3 separate regions of the Homo sapiens genome follow, and regions 1 and 3 are each linked to region 2. The links come from fine-mapping of genetic effects on gene expression. A gene starts in region 2. Each other region holds a variant in brackets. All regions are shown on one strand. Distances are from middle to middle.

Region 1 (2,663 bases), 57 kb after region 2:
TTTTTTTGAGACACAGTCTTGCTCTGTTGCCAGGCTGGAGTGCAGTGGCATGATATTGGCTCACTGCAACCTCCGCCTCCTGGGTTCAAGTGATTCCCCTGCCTCAGCCTCCCAAGTAGCTGAGACTACAGGCATGCGCCACCATGCCTGGCTAGTTTTTTGTACTTTAGTAGAGATGAGGTTTTACCATGTTGGCCAGGATGGTCTTGATCTCCTGACCTCGTGATCCTCCTGCCTCGGCCTCCCAAAGTGCTGGGATGACAGGCGTGAGCCACTGCGCCCAGAAGATTTTCTGATTTTTAAAGTTATGCCAGAGACCGGGCGTGGTGGCTCACGCCTGTCATTCCAACACTTTGGGAGACTGAGGTTGGCAGATCACCTGAGGTTTAGGACTTCGAGACTAGACTGGCCAATATGGTAAAACCTTGTCTTTACTAAAAATTCAAAAAAAATTAGCCAAGCGGGGTGACCGCAGTCCCAGCTATTTAGGAGGTTGAGGCAGGAGAATCACTTGAACCCGGGAAGCAGAGATTGCAGTGAGCCGAGATCGCTTGAACCCGAGAAGCAGAGATTGCAGTGAGCTGAGATCATGCCACTGCATTCCAGTCTGGGTGACAAAGCAAGACTCTGTCAAGAAAAAAAAAAATAAAAATAAAAAGCCGGAAATCAAATTTTAAATGTTGGGATCTAATCTAATTTTTTTAAAAACAAAAAGTATGCCTAAAACAACAGCAATAACAACAAGCCATCTATGGGCCAAACTGTGGGTGGGGAAACCTATTTTGTACTTCTTATTTTATCCGATTGAATTGTGGTGGAGATAGGAAATTGAGACCCCAAAAAGGGTAGTAAGTTTTCCCAAAGTTATTTAGTCAGTTGCCAGATTATGGCTTGAATTAAATTTAAATTCTTCAGCTGGGCATGGTGGTGCACACCTGTAGTATAGCTGCTTGGGAGGCAGAGGTGGGAGGACTGCTTGAGCCCAAAAGTTCAAGGCACAGGAAGCTGTGATCTTACCACCACACTTCAGCCTGGGCAACAGAGCAAGACCTCATTTCAAAAAAAGAAAAAAAAAAGAAAAATTTAAATTCTTCATTACAGAACAGCTGATGGTGGAGGTTTATTCTTGGGCAGGTACATCTGATCTATTTATGTATGTATCTATGAATTTGTCTATTTGGCATGGCTCTTTAGCAAAATACAGGCTTTTTTTTTTTAAGTAAAAGTAATTGAAACAAAATTTGTTTCCAAGGCTGGACAGCTCAGTGGCAAAATGCAGACTTGAACAACATTGCCCGAGTTTGAATTCAGCTCCAGAGCTTACCAGCTGTGTGATACTGGACACAGTATTTAACCCTTCTGTGCCTGAGTTTCACATCTGAAAAAGGAGATGATAAAAATAATTACAGAATGAAAGGAGATAATACACATGAGGTACTTAGAATAAAGCCTGGCATACAGAACTGCAGTTTGGTTGTTATCCGTGGTGGTGGCGGTGGCGGTGGCGGTGGCGGTGGCGGTGATGGTGGTGGTGATGGTGGCGATGGTGATG[ATGATGGTGG/A]TGATGGTGGTGATGGTGTTGGCAGTGATATTGGTGGTGGTGATGGTCATAGTGGGGAAGGTGATGATGATGAATGAAGATGATTAGAAAGTCCTCAGTTCACAAGGTCAGAGTGATCTAGATGACACAGGGCTCTTCGGTTATAAGAGAATATCCTTCAGGGTTCCTTTAAATGGCTCTCTCCATCTTTCGTACTACAGTGGGACTTGCCACAGGTTCTGGGGACTGTTAATGTGAGATGAGATGCTACATACCTTTTTGTTGTTGGTGGGTTTTTTTGTGTGTATGCACTGTTGTGTGTGTGTGTGTGTGTGTGTGTGTGTGAGAGACAGGGTCTCGCTCTGTTGCCCAGGGTGTAGTACAGTGGCATGATCTCAGCTCGTTGCAACTTCCGCCTTCCAGGCTCAGGCACTCCTCCCACTTCAGCCGCCTGAGTGGCTGGGAATACAGGCACGCTCCATGCTCAGCCACTTTTTGTGTTTTTCATAGAGGCAGCATCTCACTATCTTGCCTAGGCTGGTCTCGAACTCCCAGCCTAAAGTGGTCTGCCCACTTGGCCTCCCAAAGTGCTGGGATTACAGGCATGAGCCACTGCACCTGACCTGTATGCTCCTGTTAAGAGAGCTTTATTTTTATTTATTTATTTTGAGACAGGGTCTCTGTTGCTCAGGTGGGAGTGCAGAAGACACCACATACCTTTATCCCTTGTTCCTCATTTCTTAGTCTTTCTGGCTACTGATCTTTTTAGTTTGCGTGTTCATCCTGAAAGGTCCTTGGATATATAGGAGCCTTGTCTGTTTCTTCAAACCCCGTGGCAGCTGGTTTCATGCTCCAGGCGAGCTCCTGTCCTCTGGGGTGTGTCCTGCTGACCCCTCGCCTGTGTTTGTGTTCGCAGGACTGGAATGTCACGTGGAATACCAGCAACCCCGACTTCACCAAGTGCTTTCAGAACACGGTCCTCGTGTGGGTGCCTTGTTTTTACCTCTGGGCCTGTTTCCCCTTCTACTTCCTCTATCTCTCCCGACATGACCGAGGCTACATTCAGATGACACCTCTCAACAAAACCAAAACTGTAAGTCACTGGGGGGTTTCGTTGTGGGGG
Region 2 (2,640 bases):
TGGGGATAATACTACTTCTTACCTCATGGGGTTGTGAGGATTGCACAAGTTAATTTGTGTAAATTGCTAAGAACACAGCCTTAGGAAGCCTTGTCACTGTGAATGCATATTAATTTTTTTTATTATTATTTTTTGAGACAGAGTCTTGCTCTGTTGCCCAGGCTGGAGTGCAGTGGTGTGATCTAAGCTCATTTCAACCTCCGCCTCCCAGGTTCAAGTGATTCTCCTGTTTCAGCTTCTCAAGTAGCTGGGACTACAGGTGCCCGCCACCATGCCCGGCTAATTTTTGTGTTTTTAGTAGAGACAGGGTTTTGCTATGTTGGCTAGGCTGGTCTTGAACTCCTGACCTTATGTGATCGGCCCGCCTCGGCTTCCCAAAGTGCTTGATTACAAGCACGAGCCACCATGCCTGGCCTACGATTATCATGTCTCCAGGCTTCAGTTTCCTTACCTCTGAGGTGAGGATCAATAACCTGGTTATTTCTAAGTGATGCTTAAAGAGGTTGAGAAGAAGCAAAGGCGCTCTGCACACAGGTGAGGTCAACAGCTGTTAGTGATGGAGACTGGCGCCGTCTGGGTCATCAGTGCTCCGGAATCAGGCTGCTCACGGGTTTGAATCTCACTTCCACTTTCACTCCTTATTAACTGTGTGACCTCGGGCAAGTCACTTCGCCTTTCTGAACCTCAGTTTCCCCATCTGTAAAAGGTAGGTGAATAACAGTATTCACCTCCTTCTGTGTGACTCAGCTTTGGAGTCAGCGGACCGGGTTCAAATCCCAGCCCTGCAAGTGATTAGCCAGGTGACCCTGGGCAGAGGGAATCACTCAACCTCTCTGCACCTGGGTTTCTTCCTTCATGAACGTGGAGACTTTACAGGATGAAATGAGGGCACAGTTAAGGCGCCCGGTACACTCCAGGCAGGTAGGGGGCTCCGTTCACGTTATTTTCCCCTGGTGACGGATACTGTCCTTAAACAGCATTTGAAAAGTGGTCGCAGGGTGTGTGGCCCCAAAGATCCCAGGCGCTTCCGGAAGGCGAGCCAACGCTCCCCAGGCCCGTCCGCGAGCGGGTGGGCCTAAGCCTTGGAGGATCTGGGGTGGGGGTGGCGCGGGGTCCAGGCCCGGGGCGCCGAGAGGTGGCTGGTCCGGCTGCCCACGCCGAGACGCGCGAGGTGAGCGGGCGCCGGGGCGGGGCGGGGTGGGGCGGGGCCGCCGCATCCCCGTGACGCGCGGGCCAACCAGGCGGCGTTGCGGCCCCGGCCCCGGCTCCCTGCGCCGCCGCCGCCGCCGCCGCCAGCGCTAGCGCCAGCAGCCGGGCCCGATCACCCGCCGCCCGGTGCCCGCCGCCGCCCGCGCCAGCAACCGGGCCCGATCACCCGCCGCCCGGTGCCCGCCGCCGCCCGCGCCACCGGCATGGCGCTCCGGGGCTTCTGCAGCGCCGATGGCTCCGACCCGCTCTGGGTACGTGCCGGGGGCCGCGTGAGGCCGGCGGGACGGAGGGAGGCCGGCGGGGAGGGAAAGCACCGGGCCCGCAGCCGCCCGGGGCACCCCGCTCCCCGCTCTGCTGCCGGCCTCGGGGGCCCGGGACCCTCACGTCGCCCGCGGCCCAGCCCCTTTCGGGGGTGCAAGGCATGGGGGAAACTTGGGTGACTCAGTTCCTGCGGAGCAGAGCGTGGGGGGCCGCGTGCCCAGCCCTGGGGTTTTGGAGGGTCGGGTCGGGTCAGAGCCGCCGTGAGGAGGCCTTCCTGTTTTGGGGTTCCCGTCTGTAAAAACAACCTTCCAGGGAAGGGGACGCTAGAGATGGGGGGCGGGAAGAGGGGTGTCTCTCTGCTTCTGTTTTCCCATCTTTTTTGTGGTTAGGGTCCCCCCTTTTCACGAAAAATACTCCGTGACCAACGGGGTGAGCTGGGGAGGGGCTTAGATTGTAGAAAGGGACTTTCATTGTCTCCCCAAAGTTGTCGTACAAGCCACATTACTCTTCTGTGGTTACCTAGCTTTGTTTTTTTTGTTCTTTCTACTTAGATACTGCGGGGGAAGTTTGGGGGAACCAGGGAAGAAGGGGGATGTCCACCCTTGATGTGCCCTACCTGACCCTCGGCTCGGGGCAGACTTGGGGTGCAGCTGAGGACGCCCAGGACCCTGGTAGCTGTGGTCCTGCCCTCCCTTCCCTGCAACACGTGGAGCTCCTCTCTGGGGATGCCCCTTAGATTTAACCCCGGCAAGTTTTCTTCTGTAACGTGGCCTGCGGAGCCTGACTGGGTGTCTGGAGTCCACTTGCTGTGGTTTAAGCCCCAGTCTTTTGGGCTTCAGCTTCTCCGTAATGCGATTTGCCTCTTTGTTCCAGGAAGGCAGGCACTTCTGTCTCGTGCTGTCTTGATTGTTGGTGAACGCAGTAGGCAAATCTGGACACGACTGTTTCTCTCTCCTCTTTTGTTTAGGAATCAGGAGAAACAGCCTTGGTTCTTAGGAGCTGGTGATCAGCTTCCAAAAATACTTTCTTGTCCTGTTTTGCCGGCCTTTCCTCGAGGGTTGCATTTGGAGTGTTGAAAAGTCATCCTCCAGGGCCCCATTGGAGGGTTTGGTTTTGTTTGTTTGTTTTTTTTAGTAGGGTATCATTGTGTTTAATAACCTACCACACTTT
Region 3 (2,663 bases), 81 kb after region 2:
GAACTACCATGAGCTCTTTTTCTTTTCTTTTTATTTATTTTTGAGACAGGGTCTCACTATTACCCAGGCTGGAGTGCGATGGCACAATCTCAGCTTGCTGCAACCTCTGCCTCCCGGGTTCAAGCCATTCTCGTGCCTCAGCCTCTTGAGTAGCTGGGACTACAGGCACGTGCCACCATGTCCGGCCAATTTTTATATTTTTTGTAGAGACAGGGTCTTGCCATGTTGCCCAGACTGGTCTCGAACTCCTGAACTCAAAGCAGTTCTCCCGCCTCAGCCTCCCAAAGTGTTGGGGTTACAAGTGTGAGCCACTGCGCCCAGCTGCCATGAGCTCTTTACCATGCATTGCATAGGTGAACGTTTTAATATGTATCTCTGAAGGACATGGATTTGTTTATTTTAAATGACTTTTTATTTCGCAATAGTTTGGCTCACAAAAAGTTGCAAAAATAACAGAGTTCCTGTTGTTCATTGCTCAACTTTCTCTAATGATAACATCTGAAAGATAAGAATTTTAAAAACTGTAACTGTTGGGCTGCATGTGATGGCTCATGCCTGTAATTCCAGCACTTTGGGAAGCTGAGGCAGGAGGATCACTTAAGCCCAGGAGTTTGAGACCAGCCTGATCAATATAGGTAGACCTTGTCTTGACAAAAAACATGTATATGTGACTGTAATACTAACTTTAATAATAATTCATTATTATCAAATATTCCAGTAATCCATTGTGTTTGTACAATGGCTCATTCTTCTATGATATCATTCTTTATGTTTTAGCTGGGATTTTTTTATGGAAAAGAGTTTCCCCTTCATTTCTTTGATCACTGATCACTCTGTGGTGATCGAATAAATGACTGTTTTCCTCAGGGAAGCCTTCTCCAACCCTGGTGAACCAAATGAGTACATTTGGGAAAGGTGGAGAAAATACTTGTTTCTTTCCGCTTTTTCTGCGTTCAAACAATGACCTGGTTCACTGACAACATCAGATGTTTCTCTTTATTTCCAGCGTCAATATGAAATTTGTGTACATAAACATGTAAGGCTGGGCGCAGTGGCTCAAGCCTGTAATCCCACCACTTTGGGAAGCCACGGTGGGCAGATCACTTGAGTCAGGAGTTCGAGACCAGCCTGTTCACCAACATGGTGAAACCCCATCTCTACTAAAGATACAAACATTAGCCCAGTGTGGTGGCTGATGCTTGTAATCCCAGCTACTTAGGAGGCCGAGGCGGGAGGATCACTTGAACCCAGGAGGCGGAGTTTGCAGTGAGCCAAGATCACGCCACTGGACTCCAGCCTGGGCGACAGAGC[A/G]AGACTCCATCTCAAAAAACAAAACAAAACAAAAACCTTGCTTGGTATGTTTCAGCCTGTTGTACTTATTCTCCTTGTCAAAGCTCAAATTGTCCCTCTTTTAGCCTGCAGCGGCCACTTCTGCTTGGCTCTTGAGCCTTTTAACAATCCTGTTCATGCTTAGTTTCCTTGTTGTCCGGTGTGACAAGATGTTCTTGGCTTACCTTGCATATTTCCTGCCCAGCCACTTTTCCAAGAAAAATCTGGAAGTTTAAAACAAAAACAAAGCTTCAGTGCCCCAGTCGCACCCAGAACCAGCTTAATCAGATTGCCTGGTGCGGGTAGGGCCCGGATACAGTATTTTTTTAAATTTTATTTTTATTTTGTTTGAGACAGGGTCCCTAGGCTGGAGTGTAGTGGCACGATCTCAGCTTACTGCAACCTCCGCCTCATGGATTCAAGCAATTCTGCCTCAGCCTCCCGAGTAGCTGAGCTTGCAGGCACCCACCACCACATCCAGCTAATTTTTTGTATTTTTGGTAGAGACGAGGTTTCATCATGTTGCCTAGGCTGGTCTCGAACTCCTGACCACAAGTGATCTGCCCGCCTTGGCCTCCCAAAGTACTGGGATTACAGGCATGAGCCACCACACCCAGCCAGGATACAGTATTTTTTAAAAAGCACGCCCAGCCTTGAATGGAAAACCACTGGACGAGAGTATGCCACCTTATCGGGCTCTGTAAATGCCTTATATCTGCACAAGGCTGGAACTTTGAGTGGAGTCCTTGGCTAAAGCTTTCATTACTGCCTGGTGACCTCTCTTCCCTCTGCTGCTAAAGCTTGTGTTTCAGAATTTAGACCCGGATGCATCCATGTTGAAAGCCAGGCTTTGTCTGTCATCCCAGGAGCTCTGTATCGGTCCCTTTCCTTGCCTGCATGTTGTTGACTTGGGGCTCATCTTCATTTCTCTGGGAAATGAGTTCTTTGATAGCTTGCTTAGAATCTCTCAGTACTTCCCATTGCCCTTAGAATGAAGACCAAAATATGTGGCCTGCAGTGTAGACTGTGCACAGCCTCCAGTGTAGACTACTCAGGCCCCTTCTTGGTTCCTGGAGTCTACCATGCTTTCTTCTACCACCGGGCCTTTGCACACACTGCTGTCTGTTGGGAATGCGTTGCCTTTCCTTGTTACTTAGTTCTCATCTACTCACCCTTCAGGTGCCAGCTTGACTGTCTGCCTCGGGGGCGCCTTCTCTGACCTTCGTACACCAGATCAGCCCCCATGCACTTACTTTGTCTCATTGGTAATATTTCTCTCCCTTCAGGACACACATCAAGGCCCAGAAGTTGTAGTTTTGCATTTGTTCATGTGA

The links.
Region 1: its variant is fine-mapped to the expression of ABCC1 in whole blood (TOPMed, PIP above 0.99).
Region 3: its variant is fine-mapped to the expression of ABCC1 in whole blood (TOPMed, PIP 0.99).

The regions. Positions count from the first base shown.
Region 1 is chr16:16,005,360-16,008,022 of GRCh38, forward strand. It overlaps ABCC1 (ATP binding cassette subfamily C member 1 (ABCC1 blood group)), which reads left to right. Exons shown (of 31, transcript NM_004996.4): 2 at 2,457-2,633. Among named protein-coding and RNA genes, the nearest start is that of ABCC1, 57 kb to the left of the region's middle. The variant ATGATGGTGG/A (reference allele first, on the strand shown) is at 1,553.
Region 2 is chr16:15,948,340-15,950,979 of GRCh38, forward strand. It overlaps ABCC1 (ATP binding cassette subfamily C member 1 (ABCC1 blood group)), which reads left to right and starts at 1,277. Exons shown (of 31, transcript NM_004996.4): 1 at 1,277-1,460. The coding sequence starts at 1,413. LOC107984869 (a long non-coding RNA gene) reads right to left here and starts at 832. Exons shown (of 3, transcript XR_001752339.2): 1 at 452-832.
Region 3 is chr16:16,029,201-16,031,863 of GRCh38, forward strand. All of the region lies in intron 5 of ABCC1 (ATP binding cassette subfamily C member 1 (ABCC1 blood group)), which reads left to right. Among named protein-coding and RNA genes, the nearest start is that of ABCC1, 81 kb to the left of the region's middle. The variant A/G (reference allele first, on the strand shown) is at 1,312.